Homo sapiens: one gene and its partners. The protein of the gene in region 2 purifies or fractionates together with the protein of the main gene of each other region. This does not show direct contact. Each region holds a gene or a part of one and is shown on either strand. Other genes may lie near its edges.

Region 1 (3,595 bases), on a different chromosome or scaffold from region 2:
AACCTGCCTTGGTCTACCAGTCACAGCCTGTGCCTCTGCCTCTGTTTCTTGCTCAGGATGGCTGCTTCTATAGCACTGGAAGCTTTGGAGGCCTTATATGGTTAGGCTTTGTTTTAAGGGAAATTTGGGGGCACAGTGAGTTCTGTCTGTGAAAGAAGTCAAGCGAAGGGAGTCCTGCGATGCAGAAGTAGAGAAAGCAATAGGGAGCAATAGGTAGTGGGAGAGTACAGAAACCAAGAAACTACCCAAATCAGGAAGAATGAAAAAGAACAGCAGTAGCAGTGGAGAGGGAAAACGAGATCTCCAATTGACTGAACAGAACACTCAGCTCAAAAATCAACTGATAAAAGTCATTTTCTGAATGCCTACTGTATGCTAAGTCAAGTGAGCTAAGATCAGTGTATACTAGCCTCTGAAAGATTTCTACTGTAGAGAACAACGTGGCATTTCTTCAGGGGATGGAGATGACTCTGATAAGGTCTCTACACTTGAGTTCTGTTTTGGAAAAGTAGAGAAACCACCAGTAGAGTACAGGATGGCAAACATCTAGGAGAATCCAGAGCACACTACAGCCTGGTAGGAGGCTGAACCAGACTCAAAATACTTCAGGAAAGCATGATGTGGGTCAAGGGTTGCACCTAAGGAAGGTGAATAAATTCATCTCTTCCAATGGGGTAGAGCAGATGCAACCAGGCAGTACAATCAACAGTTTTTTCAGGGACTGAAAGGTAGTGGGGATCCTTTATGCCTGATCCAAGGAATGAGCCAAACATTAGTACCTCCTCCTCTTCCCAATTCTGCCTTTGTAACTTAACAAGCATTATTTATGCAGCCACTTAATTTTAAGGAGTTGGCTCTTAGACACTTAAGGTAGGAACAGTAATCTTTCCTGTTTTCAAGGAGATCGCTGTAAGAAAACAAGTGCATCAGACCCCTGAAAAACTACAGATTATGAAAAGCTAAAGGACAGACTGCTGACAGGGTTTCTGCTAGAGGTTTTGGAATGGTGGAAAAGAGGTAGAGACAGGGAGGTGAAGGAGAGGAAGAAGTGGCAAGTGCCTTTTCCCCCACTATCTCCCTGTTTTGGATTTTCCCCACAACTGTTGATATACATCTATAAATGAGAAATTCAATTATAACCAGCTTATTTAAAATATCCTCTATGATAGAAATCTACTTAAGTTAAAAAAATCAAAGGGAAACTAGATGCCTAATATGTAATAGCTAGTATTTTCATTCATTCATATGTTACCTATCAAGATTCTAAAATGTCCCCACTTTTCAGCAAGTCTTCAACCCACTGTTCCTAAAATTATTGACCACTTGGTCAGATAAGATTAAAGACCAATCATCTAAAACTCATTTTCTTTACCTGAGTCTGGCATAGCTCAGTCCAAAGTTTGGGGAACAGTGCAAGATGAAGTGGCAAACCTTCATAGGCAACTAGGACACCTAATATTTGAAAAGAAATCAGAATAGGTTATAATTATAAATTATACTAGTGAGATACTCAACTCTGCAGGTACAATATTACAGCTATTTCTAGTCATAACTGCATATTTTCTATATTTTAAAGTACATAAAGGGGAAAAATTCATTCCAATGTTTAGTGAAATATCTTAGAATGTGGTACTTTGAATTTATTTATATCCTATACCTCATTCCTGAAGGATATGGGACTTAAATCAACTCTTCTTTTTTGAGTATTAGAACTTTATCTGGGAAAAGAAAAAGTTACTGCAAGTGGCTCCAAATCTTTCTTGGATTAAGGTACCACTCTGCCTATTAGATAATTTTCATAGGGTGGCTAGACTGCAGGAGGGAGGAGGGGAAAGGTAAAAAAAAAAAAAAAAAAAAAAAAGTGGAGAATTAAACATATCTTTCCTCTTTTACCTTCTTTCTTCAAAGATAGAATGACCTTTGTGGTACATTTAAGTAAATGCGGCCCTTAACACCAGTTTCTTGGCTTGTTCCCAGGATCTTCTGAGTGGACCGCATCTGGCACTATGTCAGAGAGTGCTATTTGGAACCTCTATGAATTTACTTCTCCACTTCTTGACTATTCCAGATGTAAAATATGTCACTAAGATGTGTGCCCCTATCCTCTGTCATCCTATCTCTGAAAGTACAGAAGCTTCATTACCACAGTCCTAAATGAATTTCCCATCTTCCACATCCCCTAGGGTCCCCAGGGCAAGTATAATCATGGAGAAGAAGAAATATAACACAGACCATCCTCTTCCAGTTAAGAAAAGACTGAGTTAGACAAGGAGTCAGCAAACTTGTTCTGGGAAGGGCCAAATAGTGTTTGAGGCTTTGTGGCCATGCTCTGTTAACACAGCTCAACCCTGCTGAGGCAGTGTGAAGGCAGCCTTAGACAAGAGTAAGGAAATGGGTGTGGCTGTCTTTCAGTAAAACTTTACAAACACTGAAATGGGAATCTCATAATTTTCATGTCAGAAAATATTCTATATTAAAAAAAAATTTAAAAATATGAAAACTATTCTTAGCTAGCAGGTAGCCATGGTTATACAAAAACAGGCAGCATGTGGGTTGTAATTTGCCAAACCGTGGGTTAGACCAAGGACTTGAGAACATCCTACACAGGCAAGTCAGGTCACTCACTCAGAACTTACCAAGGATGCCTAGGATCCCTTCCACAGGTAAGCCAATTTATTTTCCTGTCAAGATGAGTCCCTTTAGACACAAGAGGCAAGGAAATGCTACTTCCCCTTTATCCTAACCTAATCTGGTTGGTGTTTGGCAGCATATACCCACCACGGTATCACCACACACATAGGTAAACAAGGACATGTCATCACATCTGTGGCTATAGGGAAGAGAGTTCCTACGTTCCCATGTTCCTGTATCCTAATTACTCATCAAAGTAGAGGAAGGGTTAGCAAACTATGGCCCTCAGGCCAAATCTGACCCATGGCCTGTTTTTATATGGACTTGTGAGCTAAGAATGGCTTTTTCTTTGAGACAGACAGTGTCTTCACTCTGTTGCCCAGGTTGGAGTGCAGTGGCGTGATCACAGATCAGGGGCAGCCTTGAACCGCTGTGCTCAAGTGATCCTTACACCTTAGCCTCCGTAGTAGCTAAGACTGCAGGCTGGGACAATTTTCTTAAAAAAATATTTTGGGGCCAGGCGCAGTGGCTCATGCCTGTAATCCCAACACTTTGGGAGGCCAAGGTGGGCGGATCACCTGAGGTCAGGAATTCGCAACCAGCCTGACCAACATGGAGAAACCGTCTCTAGTAAAAATACAAAACTAGCAGGGCGTGGTGGCACATCCCTGTAATCCCAGCTACTTGGGAGGCTGACGCAGGAGAATTGCTTGAACGCGGCAGGCGGAGGTTGCGGTGAGCCGAGATCGTGCCATTGCACTCCAGCCTGGACAACAAGAGTGAAACTCTGTCAAAAAAAAAAAAAAAAAAAGTTTTGGGCCAGGTATGGTGACTCACGCTGGTAATCCCGGCACTTTGGGAGGCCGAGGCAGGAGAATAATGAAACCCCGTCTCTACTAAAAATACAAAAATTGGCTGGGTGTGGTGGCACACACCTGTAATCCCAGCTATTCAGGAGGCTGAG
Region 2 (2,962 bases):
TGAGCTATTCAATGGAGTAACATCACTAAAATGTATTGAAGCAATTTGGCTAATGTGGAAGAATAAAAAAGAACGTATGTGCTTTGGCCAAGCATCAGTGTGTGTCCTTTGTCTAAAAATATAAGAATCTGGCAGCAGCTTTGGTTAAAAAACAGTAACGGACATGAGATCAAATTTACCCTGTAGGAAATTCACCCAGATGTAGATGCACATCACTTAGATATGCATTACACCCATTTGTCTTATTCATACAAAATGGCTTAATGATTAGAAAACACCAACATAAATACTTGGGAAGGAGAAGATACTAAATCAAAGAAGTAAGTCTTTCATTGAAAGCCTCTATTCACCACTGCAGGAGCAGGACGGCTCACTTAAAATATATAAATATCCGTTTACAGTTGGAGTACTAATTGGGATTTTTAAAAAATTTAATTAGTCACATATATATTTTACATTTCTTGGAAGACTGTTTTTTTCTTTTTAAGGTAAAATCATGACTCTCATACAAATATCAACATGTGTCAAAAGATTTTATTAAACTAATTCAATTTGTTAGGGAAATGGTAAGATGTTACAACTGGTTAAGAGGAGCATTAAAAGTGCAGACATATATTCAGGCCATCAAGAATGAGGAAATGAATTTGCTAAATTGATGCAACATCAATCAATAGCCAGGGCCTGTCATTCACAGACAATCACTCCACCACACGCACACATACATTCCTACGGTTTGTCCACAACTTCCAGAGCTGAAGAGTAGCTCAAGGACATCAAAGGGCAGAGGCCCCTAGGAAGGGCTGAGCCACAATGAAGCAGTGCTCCTTCACTCCCGATTTCCATGGCTACCACCGTTTTTCTCTGGCAAATCAGAGACGAATTTTAAAGACTGAGTAAATCTATAAAAGCGATTAATCACAGAAGTTCAATGTCTGATAAATTATTCCAAAAGTGTTCCTGGGCACTGAGACTCACCAAGCATACATTCTGAAATCAAATTCTATTTCTATCCAAAAAGTGCAGCCCATCAGTGTTCTTAAAGGAGGCAAATGGTTGTTGTGAGGTAGCAAACATTTTCCAATGCAGGTAAGGATGTAGATACCAGGTAAATGTTACAGTTGTGTTCATACTAACAATAAACTATGGATGACGTGGCACAGAGTCAGTCAATGAGGAAAGATCCAGAGACATTCTGAGGTCACAAAAAGAATTTAAATGTTAGCTAACAAGGAGTGCTCATCAAAAACAGGACTTTCCCACTCAGACTGCAAACCAGGCAGAACTACCATCTCGCTTTATCAGTTGTCATTGCATGTTGACATCAACACTGAGGAGAGTGATGCAGACGATAGATATAAACATATCTACATACATATGCATACATAAAGCATATACTTATATGCATACACAGTTTACATTTCCCAGCCAGTGTTCAGAAAAACTAGAAGAGAGAAGTGATGTTCCATTTTGTCTTGGAAAAGTATATATTTTACATATACATGCATGCATATGTCTACATACATATGCATGTAATGCCTACCTGCATATTACCAAACTGATACACACATGTATATATGGAGGTGTGTGTGTATATACATGTACATTCACTTTATCACATACTCCATCAGCTTGACTTCTGAGATGGTAATTCAAGTTTCATCTTTGTTCTGGGCTTCGTTTCTGTCTCTACTGTATTTTTTGTCTCAACCGTCAAGTCACATTTTATCAACACGTTAGACTGGGACAAACCAACATGGGATGGAAACTCCAATCTCAGGAGGCTAAAATCACAGCGCAGGTTGGGATTGAAGAGTTGCTGATTTCCTTTCCCTTTCCCCCAGCAGTGTGGACCATGAGAGTGGGCTGGGGGCGGAAGACTGAGGCCCTCCCTCTCACTCATAGGAGGGCAAACCAAACAGCTCGGGCTGGAAGTCCTGCAGGGAATTCAGCACCAGGGTGGCCTTTGTTGTCAGATCTCGGCTCAAGTTTCCGTCAGGAACCATGACCACCTGCATCCCAGCTGCCAGGGCCGCCTCCACCCCATTGGGAGCATCTTCAAAGACAAGGCACTGTAGGAAGAAAAAGAAAGTCGAGATGGCCTTTTATGGAACCAGACATGTGGATGAAGTGTTTATTATCGTCGTCACCATTGGCTCTGCAACTGTGCAGAAAGAGACAGAATTACAGTGGGGGCTCCCCAGAGTAGAGATTGTGGTGAGGACAGCATGCTGTTTCTTACTGGCTCCGGGGGTCTCCCCGCCGTGGCTCCTTTAAAGGGGAGAGGTTTCTGTTGCAGCCAAAGCATTGTTGAAATGGAGCGCAGCTGTGTGGTGAGGCAAGATTCTCAGCTTAAAACTTTATTATTTTATTGGGATCATAACAATCTGTTCAATCAATAATTGAACATTCAGAGTGTGAGAGGCAATTGCAAAACTAAAAATCATGCTCTTAAAATATAAAACCACTTCAGAGCTGCTCCTGTTTTATGTACTGTGGTTTGAAAATTAAATGGTTAGAATCTTTTAAGTTAAAAATTCAGTTCCTGTGTGTGCTAGTGTGACGTGACAAATGAGCACGAAAACGTAGTGTGCGTGCATGCTCTCTTTTGGATAATCGCGAAAATCCACTTTATTATTGGGATTACAGACACAACACCATCCAAAACCCGTGGTCTCTTCATTCAGATACCCACATTGAAAATGGGGTGTTTCCTACTGGCAACTGCAAAGATATGGAACCAACCTAAGTGCCCATCCACCAATGAGCGGATAAAGAAAATGAGGCATATATACACCATGGAATACTACTCAGACATAAAAAGGAATGAAATAATGTCTTCTGCAGCAACATGGATGGAGCTGGAGGCCATTATTCTAAGTAACTCAGGAATGGAAATCCAAATATCGTATGCTCTCACTTATAAGTGGAATCTAAGCTATGAGGATGGGAAGCCATAAGAATT
Region 3 (3,595 bases), on a different chromosome or scaffold from region 2:
GCACTCCAGCCTTGGTGATAGAGCAAGACTCTATCTCCAGAAAAAAAACAAAATCCCCACCCAGCCCACCTGGCAGAGCAGATGCAAGGAGGGAGGTAAAGGCCTGTGGAGACTCTGCTGGTCTCACAGCCTATCTTCACCCTATCTCCTCCCTCATTCTCTCCTCCCTACATCCGACCCTCCTCACAGCCTGTCCCACGGGCCAGTGCTCAGAGAACCCCGCAGTGGGGTGGGGGCCAGGACTCCTTGGGCTCCCCAAAGCCTGAAGATGGGGGTGAGGGAATGCAGGGTGACTGCCTACCTCCCAGCTGTCCAGACGGCCAACGAGGGTGAAGGCGTGGCCCGGGGAGCCGTGTAGCCGCGTGTGGTGTCCCTGCAGGACAAGGTCACGCAGCTCCCGGCCATGCAGGGCCTTGGAGTGGGCTGTATCCAGGCCAGTCACCAAGCAGCCAGCGCCTATGTGAATGGGGCCCTGGTGGGGGACAGGGCAGGCATCCTGGGTGGGCAGGCACCCAACACCCCCCAACACATGCGGGATGCCAGCACCCTCGCCCCAATCTGCCCACACGCTCAGGCCTCACCTGCAGGTGGCAGTGCTGCAGGACGCTCCCAGGACCCAGCTGGACAGGGCCCTCCAGCAGGCAGCTGACCACAGAGCTCCCGGCCGCCAGAAGCTGCTGCTCCTGTGCAGCCAGGTAGGAGGAGCATGAGGGGGGTCGAGGCCCAGGGCTGCCCCAGCTCTCCTCCCAAGCCAAGCATCCAGGGGCAAAGCGTCCAGGCCTACTGCTCCCCTGCCCTGCAGCACCCTAGACTCCTCTCTGGACCTGCCTTGGCCCCAGCCTGAGACCTATTTCCATCCCACCTGTCCAACTACGCCCAACCTTGCCACCCTGGGGGCCACCTCTGAACCCTACCTGTCCCCTTCCTCAGCAGCACGGCACTGACCCAGGCCCACCACTGTCACCCCAGGCAGACCCCAAATAAAGGTCTCCTTTAGCTTCTCAATCAGGCAAGCTCAATGCAGAATCCTGAGTTGGCCACTTACTGGCTCTGTGGCCTTAGGCAAGTTACTTAGCCTCTCTGAGCCTCCAGCACTTCATGTGTAAACCAGGGTAACACCTGCACTCGGGTCATCTGTTCCAAGTGCCGGCTATTTTCTTCCCGGGAATCCACATCCCACCTGACCCCAGACAACCAGCAGGCACCGGAGGGGCAGGGAGGTCTCACCTCCACCTGGGAGTGCACAATCTGGGCCCCAGGAGCCCCGGGGAGTGTGAGGCTGAGCAGGAACTCACTGGCTGAGGAGGTCATGTAGCTGTAGCTGCCGCTGGAGACATAGGCTGTAAAGACATAAGTACTGAACCCAACCCCATGCCTGCTGCGACTCAGGGGCCAGGCTGCCTCCCAGCAGCAGAGACACATGGGGGCAGGTGTGGCCATGAGCCTGTTAGGGGAAGCTGAGTCAGGAACCTGCCCAAAGCCACACAACACAGCTAGAAAGTAGACAGGTTGGCCGGGCACAGTGGCTCACGCCTGTAATCCCAGCACTTTGGGAGGCCGAGGCAGGCAGATCACGAGGTCAGGAGTTCGAGACCAGCCTGACCAACATGGTGAAATCCCATCTTTACTAAAAATACAAAAATTAGCCAGGCATGGTGCCACGCACCTGTAATCCCAGCTACTCAGGCAGCTGAGGCAGGAGAATCGCTTGAACCTGAGACGCAGAGGTTGCAGTGAGCCGAAATTACGCCACTGCACTCCAGCCTGGGCAACAGAGCCATACTCTGTCTCAAAAAAAAAAAAAGAAAGCAGACAGGTTAGGGCCGGGCATGGTGGCTCATGCCTGTAAGCCCAGCACTTCGGGAGGCCAAGGCAGGCGGGTCACCTGAGGCCAGGAGTTCAAGACCAGCCTGACCAACTAAAAATAGAAAAATTAGCCAAGTGTGATGATGCATGGCTATTATCCCAGGTACGCAGGAGGCTGAGGCAGGAGAATTGCTTGAACCCAGGAGGCGGAGGTTGCAGTGAGCTGAGATCGCACCACCTCACTCTAGCCGGGGCGACAAAGAGAGAGTCCGTCTCAAAAAACAAAACAAACAAACAAAAAAAAACAGAAACAAAAGTGGACAGGCTGGGAGAGCCCAGGAATGAGACAAAAGGAAGACAAGAAGGGGAAGGAGGTAGCTCAGTGGGGGGCTCTGGCACAGGACAGGAGAACTGCCCAGTCCCTGTGCTGGGCTGCCTGGCCCAGCATGCAGTGAGCAGCTCCATTCTTGGGGTCCTCACTCCCATGGTCTCCCCACCCCAGGGAGCTGAGAGGCAGTACCCACCCATGGTAAGGGGCTGATCGCGAAGCTCCCTCCACAGCTGGGCCCGGGCGCTCTGCAGATAACCCGCTACATCTGCATCGCCTTGCCCCAACTCTGGGGGCCTCCCCACCAGGAAGTCCTCCCTGGTCACGTTCTCAGCCATGCAGTGGAGAATGTCAAAAAACAGAGACAGCTAGGGGAAGGGGAAGAAGCACAGCTATTGGCATGGCAGGGGTTCAGCCCCCAAGTTCTGAGGCTGAACCAGGGCAGTCCCGTCTGCGGAGACTCTGCCCCAGAGAGGGGAAGTGGCTGGCCTGAGGTCACACAGTGCCTCGCCCCCAAGCCAGGCCCCACCTAGCTGCCCTCCCCCAGTCACCTGGACAGGCCGGGCTCCGGAGTCCAAGCCTAGGTAGGTGCAGGCATCCAGGGGCGGGCTCACGTGGGTGGCTAGGAGGCGCTCGGCAGTCTCCACAGAGAAGAAGACAACCCCAGAGACCTGGAAGGGACCCCAAAAGGATCAGAGATGGAGGGCCCTGGACCAGGCCCTGGTACAAGTCAGGGAGGGCACATGCAGATGGGCCACATGAAGCTGAGTGCCATACCAGGCAGGGAGTGTCACCTTCTGACCACTCCAGCAGCCAGACTCCAGGCTTACTTGGGGTAGCTCCCACCAAGACACCTTCTGGGACACCCTCAACTGTCAGGCCTTCTCCTGAACCCAGTTCTCCACCCTCGCCATGGTCCACTCCCAGATCTCCATGCCTCTCCAATCCTTGCCCCTCATGATGGAAGCATTCCCGGAGTCTGGCTCTAGGCCTCCTCCCAACCGCACTCCCTAACTTGCTCACATTCTGGTTCTAGGCTTTCTTTTTTCGTTTGAGTTTTTGAGGTTTGCTTTGTTTTGTTTTACAGCGGGCAGGGGATTGATTCAGAGTCTCGCTCTGTCACCCTGGCTGAAGTGCAGTGGCACGATCTCTGCTCACCGCAACCTCCGCCTCCTGGGTTCAAGCGATTCTCGAGCCTCTACCTCTCAAGTAGTTGGGATTACAGGCACACACCACCATGCTCAGCTAATTGTTGTATTTAGTAGAGACAGGGTTTCACCACGTTGCCCAGACTGGTCTCGAACTCCTGACCTCAACTGATCCACCCGCCTCAGCCTCCTAAAGTGCTGGGATTACAGGCGTTAGCCACCGTGCCCGCCTGGTTCTAGGCTTTCTGGCTCAGGACAAGACCCTGAATTCCAAGGCTACCCTGTCCTCAGATTCTAGCTCTAGCTTGTCCTG
Region 4 (4,315 bases), on a different chromosome or scaffold from region 2:
AGCAGCGCTTCTGTTATTTTTATTTCAAGTCTGTGCACAAACATCACCTACTCGATGAGGCCAAATCTGACCAGTCTATTTAAAATGTTGATTTGTTACCCTCTCTGCTTTTTCTATCACACCTGTAAATATTTATTATGTTCACTGCCATACCCACTAAGAAGTAAATTCACAAATGCAGAAATCTCTTCTGCTTTGTTCACTGAGAAACTCCAGGCTTCTGTAGAAAAGTTCCTCTTGAGTAATTACCATGAAAAACAGGTCTAAAGAGGGAGAAAAAAAATAACTTCCCTAGGTGATTAGAAAAAATTAAAGTTGATACATACAGTCAGTATATGACCTCTTCTCCCCAAGCCCAAGGCCATAAATGGCTGGACCTTTCCCTCTTCCTCCATTCATAAATTATTATTATTTTTTGAGACGGAGTCTGGCTCTGTCGCCCAGGCTGGAGTGCAGTGGCGCGATCTCGGCTCACTGCAAGCTCCGCCTCCCGGGTTCACGCCATTCTCCTGGCTCAGCCTCCCCAGTAGCTGGGACTACAGGCGCCCGCCAACACACCCGGCTAATTTTTGTATTTTTAGTAGAGACGGGGTTTCACCGTGTTAGCCAGGATGGTCTCCATCTGCTGACCTCGTGATCTGCCCATCTCGGTCTCCCAAAGTACTGGGATTACAGGCGTGAGCCACCGCGCCCGGCCCATTCATAAATTATTTACAATGATTTGTAATTATAAAGGAGGCAGTAATAGAACCAAGTCTCGAAGTAAAAATTTGTATCCATCCATCCAGCATTTATTCAACATTTGCCATGTGTCAAACGAGGATAATTAAGACAGCTTGTTCCCTCCCAAGAAGCTCACTATTTAGTAGTAGGCACCTGAGTTGCAAAATTAATTGAAATATCCTTTGACAGATGCATTAAGAAATATCTGAACAAAATACAGCACTACTATAAGTGAGGGTGTAAAGACCAGGGAGGCATACGATTTAGTCTTTGTTTTAAAAATATTGCTGTGGCAAGAATGTGGAGGACACACTGGATGTGGTAAACCTGGAGACAAGCCCACAGCAACAGTCTAGGTGAGAGATGAGTTCAGCTGTAACTGAGACATGCACGGGGCATGTGCAGTGGTGGACAGACAGCGTACGAGGGTGGAAGGTGCTATAGTTCGCTGAGTGGACACTGCAACCATGGGCTTCCCAAGTATTACAGGGTTATTGAGGACTAATATAATTCACATTTTATGAAGATATAAGGCTCCGAGTGGTTAATTCCTTGAGGCACTTTCAGCTAGGTTTTGGGAGAGCTGTGATTCATATTCAAATGTCTGATTTTAAAGCCCAAACTCTGGGCCTACAGCAAGAATTGGCCTAAAGCAATAATTTAATTGAAATGCACAGGACTCAGCTTACTAATAACACACAGGTAAATATGTAACATCTGCAGCGAGAGATACTGGAGGCAATATGGCACAGGGTGGCACCCCTGAGGTGGAGGCCAACAAGTTAAAAGTGTGGAATGCCTCAGTAAAGTCATGAAGACAGACTTTAAAAATGTCTACTGATTCCGGCATTTTGGGAATGCCTAGTGATCCAGCAAGTCTATTTCAGTCTAGCGGTGAAGATAAAGCGACATTACGATGGATTTAGTAATAAATAGGAGGTAGAGACAAGGAGATAACGGGTATAGATTTCTCCGGGAAAACATGGCTGTCAAGAGAGACAGGCAACATCTACAGCAGGAAGAATAGCCCAAAGGGAGGCATCCTTTTTACAGCTTTTTTAAAACTATAGGGCAAACATGAATATGCGGCAGGAGTGGAATGCAGCTAAAAAGAAAACGGATGAGGTAGTGGAAGATCCAGGGACACAAAAACTAACTGATGAAGCATGAAGAGGACGGGGCGCTCAGGTTTGGATGAATTAGCTTTTGAAAGTGAGTTTTCCACATCTGATAAATCCTTCCCTTTCCCCTTGAAGCTGAAGGTAGAGAAAGGGAAGCCGGGGTGGACTGGGGCTGGAACACGGGAAGGTCTGAAAGCGCCTCCGCGCGTGTAGAGGGGCAGTGCCGCGGAGGAGCGCCTCAGGAAGGGCATGCCCTCGCAGCACGGGCTTTTGCTGTGTCACGTGTCAGAAAGCCACGGTGACCACCACCCCGCCAGGGAGGCCAGAAGAAGTTCTGCGGCGACAATTCTCTAAAGCAGGGCTTAAGTCCAGGCTCGGTACTGACAGCCGTGTCCCTTCTTGGGTCAACACTGGGGCTAACTCTACCATGTCTCCTCCCAGCAACCCCGAAAGTCGCATGGGGGACACGACCCTCTGTCGAGCTCCACACCGACAGTCTGACCGGGGGCGGGACCAGCGCCTGGTCTCGCGGCTTTGCTGTCGCCTCCCGCGCCCACGGGCACCTCCGCCACCGTGGCAGCCGTCACGGAGCCCTTCCGCGTCCCGAGCGCCAAGGCACCTGCGAGCAGCCGCTCCAGGGCTCGAGATTGGGTGACAAGCGGCCGCCAGGCCAGGGAAAGCAGACCCGCAGGGCCCGCGCGCCTCCAGCCACCTCCGCACCCGCACGCTCCACAGGTTTCAACCAGCAAGAGCGGCCCGCGGCGCCGGGGTGGAAGTGGGGTCAAGGGGAGGTGAGCGTGCAGGACGGGGCGGGGCGCACTGACCCCGCCCAGAGGAGCGCCATGGGTGGGGACGTTACCTCCAACATGCCTCTCCTGCTCGCCCCGGCCGTGTCGATGAGAGTGTTGTCCAAGTCAAAGAAAACCGCCCGCACGCGGCTCAGCCCCATAGCGCCGGCCGCTGGCGCGAACCGTAGCCTTGCCACCGCCGCCTGCGCATGCGCAAGGCGGACTGCCCAGAGAGACGTGGGAGGAGCCGCGAAGTCACCAGACCATCTCCCGGCGCGGGTGGAATTCCCGCGATCTGTCTCATTCCCTGCGCCGCCGAGAAAAGTGAGATCCCGCGAGACTCCCAGGGTATGGTCTCTCAAGAGCCCTGGAAACGTGTGTCGGCGCCGCCGGATGCGGCGACTTCTCAGTGGCTGTGGCTGGCGTTGGTCCGAAGCGTGGTGTTCTTCCCTGGTGTCTTTCTGCTTATCTCTTTCCTCCCTGGGCCCTCCGGCGCGAGGGACCGTCATCACCTCCCCGAGAGAGGTTGTCCGCGCTGCCAGGCGCTGGGCAGCAGGCTCTCCGGGTGGCCGGGCGGGCGGCGCGGAGACGTCGGCGGGCCTGATGTCTGCCTTGAGCGCCCGCGGTCCTAGCCTGCCTGTACGCGCAGGTCACTGTAGGTGATCTGGGGACGGGGGAAGGTGGAGCCTGCGCCTTCCCGCCTCGCGCCATTTGCGGCCTTCGCCGGGGTGGAATCCCTGTCTGCCTGGGCCCGCGCCAGCACGTTTCTGAAGGATGTGACTTGGGTCTCTTACAACCCGTTTAGTACCTGTGCCCTAAGACGGAGGGGCTGTGTAGTGGCTGCCCCATGTTTTGCCCTTCCTGATTGTTTTCCTGAAACCTTGCGTTCTCAGGTCTTTGGATGCCTTTTACTCGGTTGTTTTCAGGCATAGCAAGAGGTTGAGGGACGTCGACCGCCTTTTAAACCCGCGGAAGGGCTGTAGCAACTCTTGTCTCCTAGTGCTGGCAGAACGGGGATCGTAACACTAATCTCTAATCTTTGTCTCTCTTGGGTACCTTTACTGTAATTTGGATATGTGGTCATCATTAGTGACCAGAAATTGACTGTCAGGTACAGGCCAATTACCTGATTTTGTTTAGCCAGTGAGCTAAGTGGTTTTTTTTATTTTTTAATTTATTTTTATTTTTATTTTCGAGATGGAGTCTTGCTCTGTCACCCAGTCTGGCGTGTAGTGGCACGATCTTGGCTCACTGCAACCTCCGCCTCCCGGGTTCAAGCAATTCTCCGGCTTCAGCCTCCTGAGTAGCTGGGATTACAGGCGCATGCCACCACCCCCCGGCTAATTTTTGTATTTTTAGTAGAGACGGAGTTTCACCATGTTGGCCAGGCTGGTTCTCGAACTCCTGACTTCGTGATCCACCCGTCTTGGCCTCCCAAAGAGCTGGGATTACAGGCGTGAGCCACCGCGCCTGGCTAAGGGTGATTTTTACATTTGTAAATGGATTTAAAAAATCAAAATAACAGTGTTTTGTTACACATGAAAATCAAGAAATTTTAGTGCCCATAGTTGCATTAGAACACAGCGCACACATTCATTTCTGTATCGTCTGTGGCTGCTGTTGCCATACAGAAGCAGACAGAGTTGAGTAATTGTAAGCGAGACCACGTGGCTGGAAATCCTA

Evidence for each region. Proteins that work in one complex are often made in the same cells at the same time.
Region 1: the proteins of PUDP (region 2) and USP34 purify together in Homo sapiens (affinity purification with mass spectrometry; one large-scale study listed by BioGRID and IntAct). This does not show direct contact.
Region 3: the proteins of PUDP (region 2) and FCSK purify together in Homo sapiens (affinity purification with mass spectrometry; one large-scale study listed by BioGRID and IntAct). This does not show direct contact.
Region 4: the proteins of PUDP (region 2) and NANP fractionate together in Homo sapiens (co-fractionation; one large-scale study listed by BioGRID). This does not show direct contact.

Annotation. Positions count from the first base shown.
Region 1 is NC_000002.12:61,191,529-61,195,123, forward strand, and holds part of USP34 (ubiquitin carboxyl-terminal hydrolase 34), read right to left. Parts: intron 1,453-3,595; coding exon 1,373-1,452; intron 1-1,372. UniProt on the Homo sapiens protein: Ubiquitin hydrolase that can remove conjugated ubiquitin from AXIN1 and AXIN2, thereby acting as a regulator of Wnt signaling pathway.
Region 2 is NC_000023.11:7,048,404-7,051,365, forward strand, and holds the end of PUDP (pseudouridine-5'-phosphatase), read right to left. Parts: intron 2,070-2,962; coding exon 1,893-2,069; 3' UTR 517-1,892; downstream 1-516. UniProt on the Homo sapiens protein: Dephosphorylates pseudouridine 5'-phosphate, a potential intermediate in rRNA degradation. Pseudouridine is then excreted intact in urine.
Region 3 is NC_000016.10:70,468,059-70,471,653, reverse strand, and holds part of FCSK (L-fucose kinase), read right to left. Parts: intron 2,806-3,595; coding exon 2,686-2,805; intron 2,503-2,685; coding exon 2,331-2,502; intron 1,341-2,330; coding exon 1,228-1,340; intron 684-1,227; coding exon 582-683; intron 473-581; coding exon 302-472; intron 1-301.
Region 4 is NC_000020.11:25,621,156-25,625,470, forward strand, and holds the start of NANP (N-acylneuraminate-9-phosphatase), read right to left. Parts: upstream 2,860-4,315; 5' UTR 2,794-2,859; coding exon 2,704-2,793; intron 1-2,703. UniProt on the Homo sapiens protein: Catalyzes the dephosphorylation of N-acylneuraminate 9-phosphate (Neu5Ac-9-P) to N-acetylneuraminic acid (Neu5Ac or sialic acid). Can also use N-glycoloylneuraminate 9-phosphate as substrate.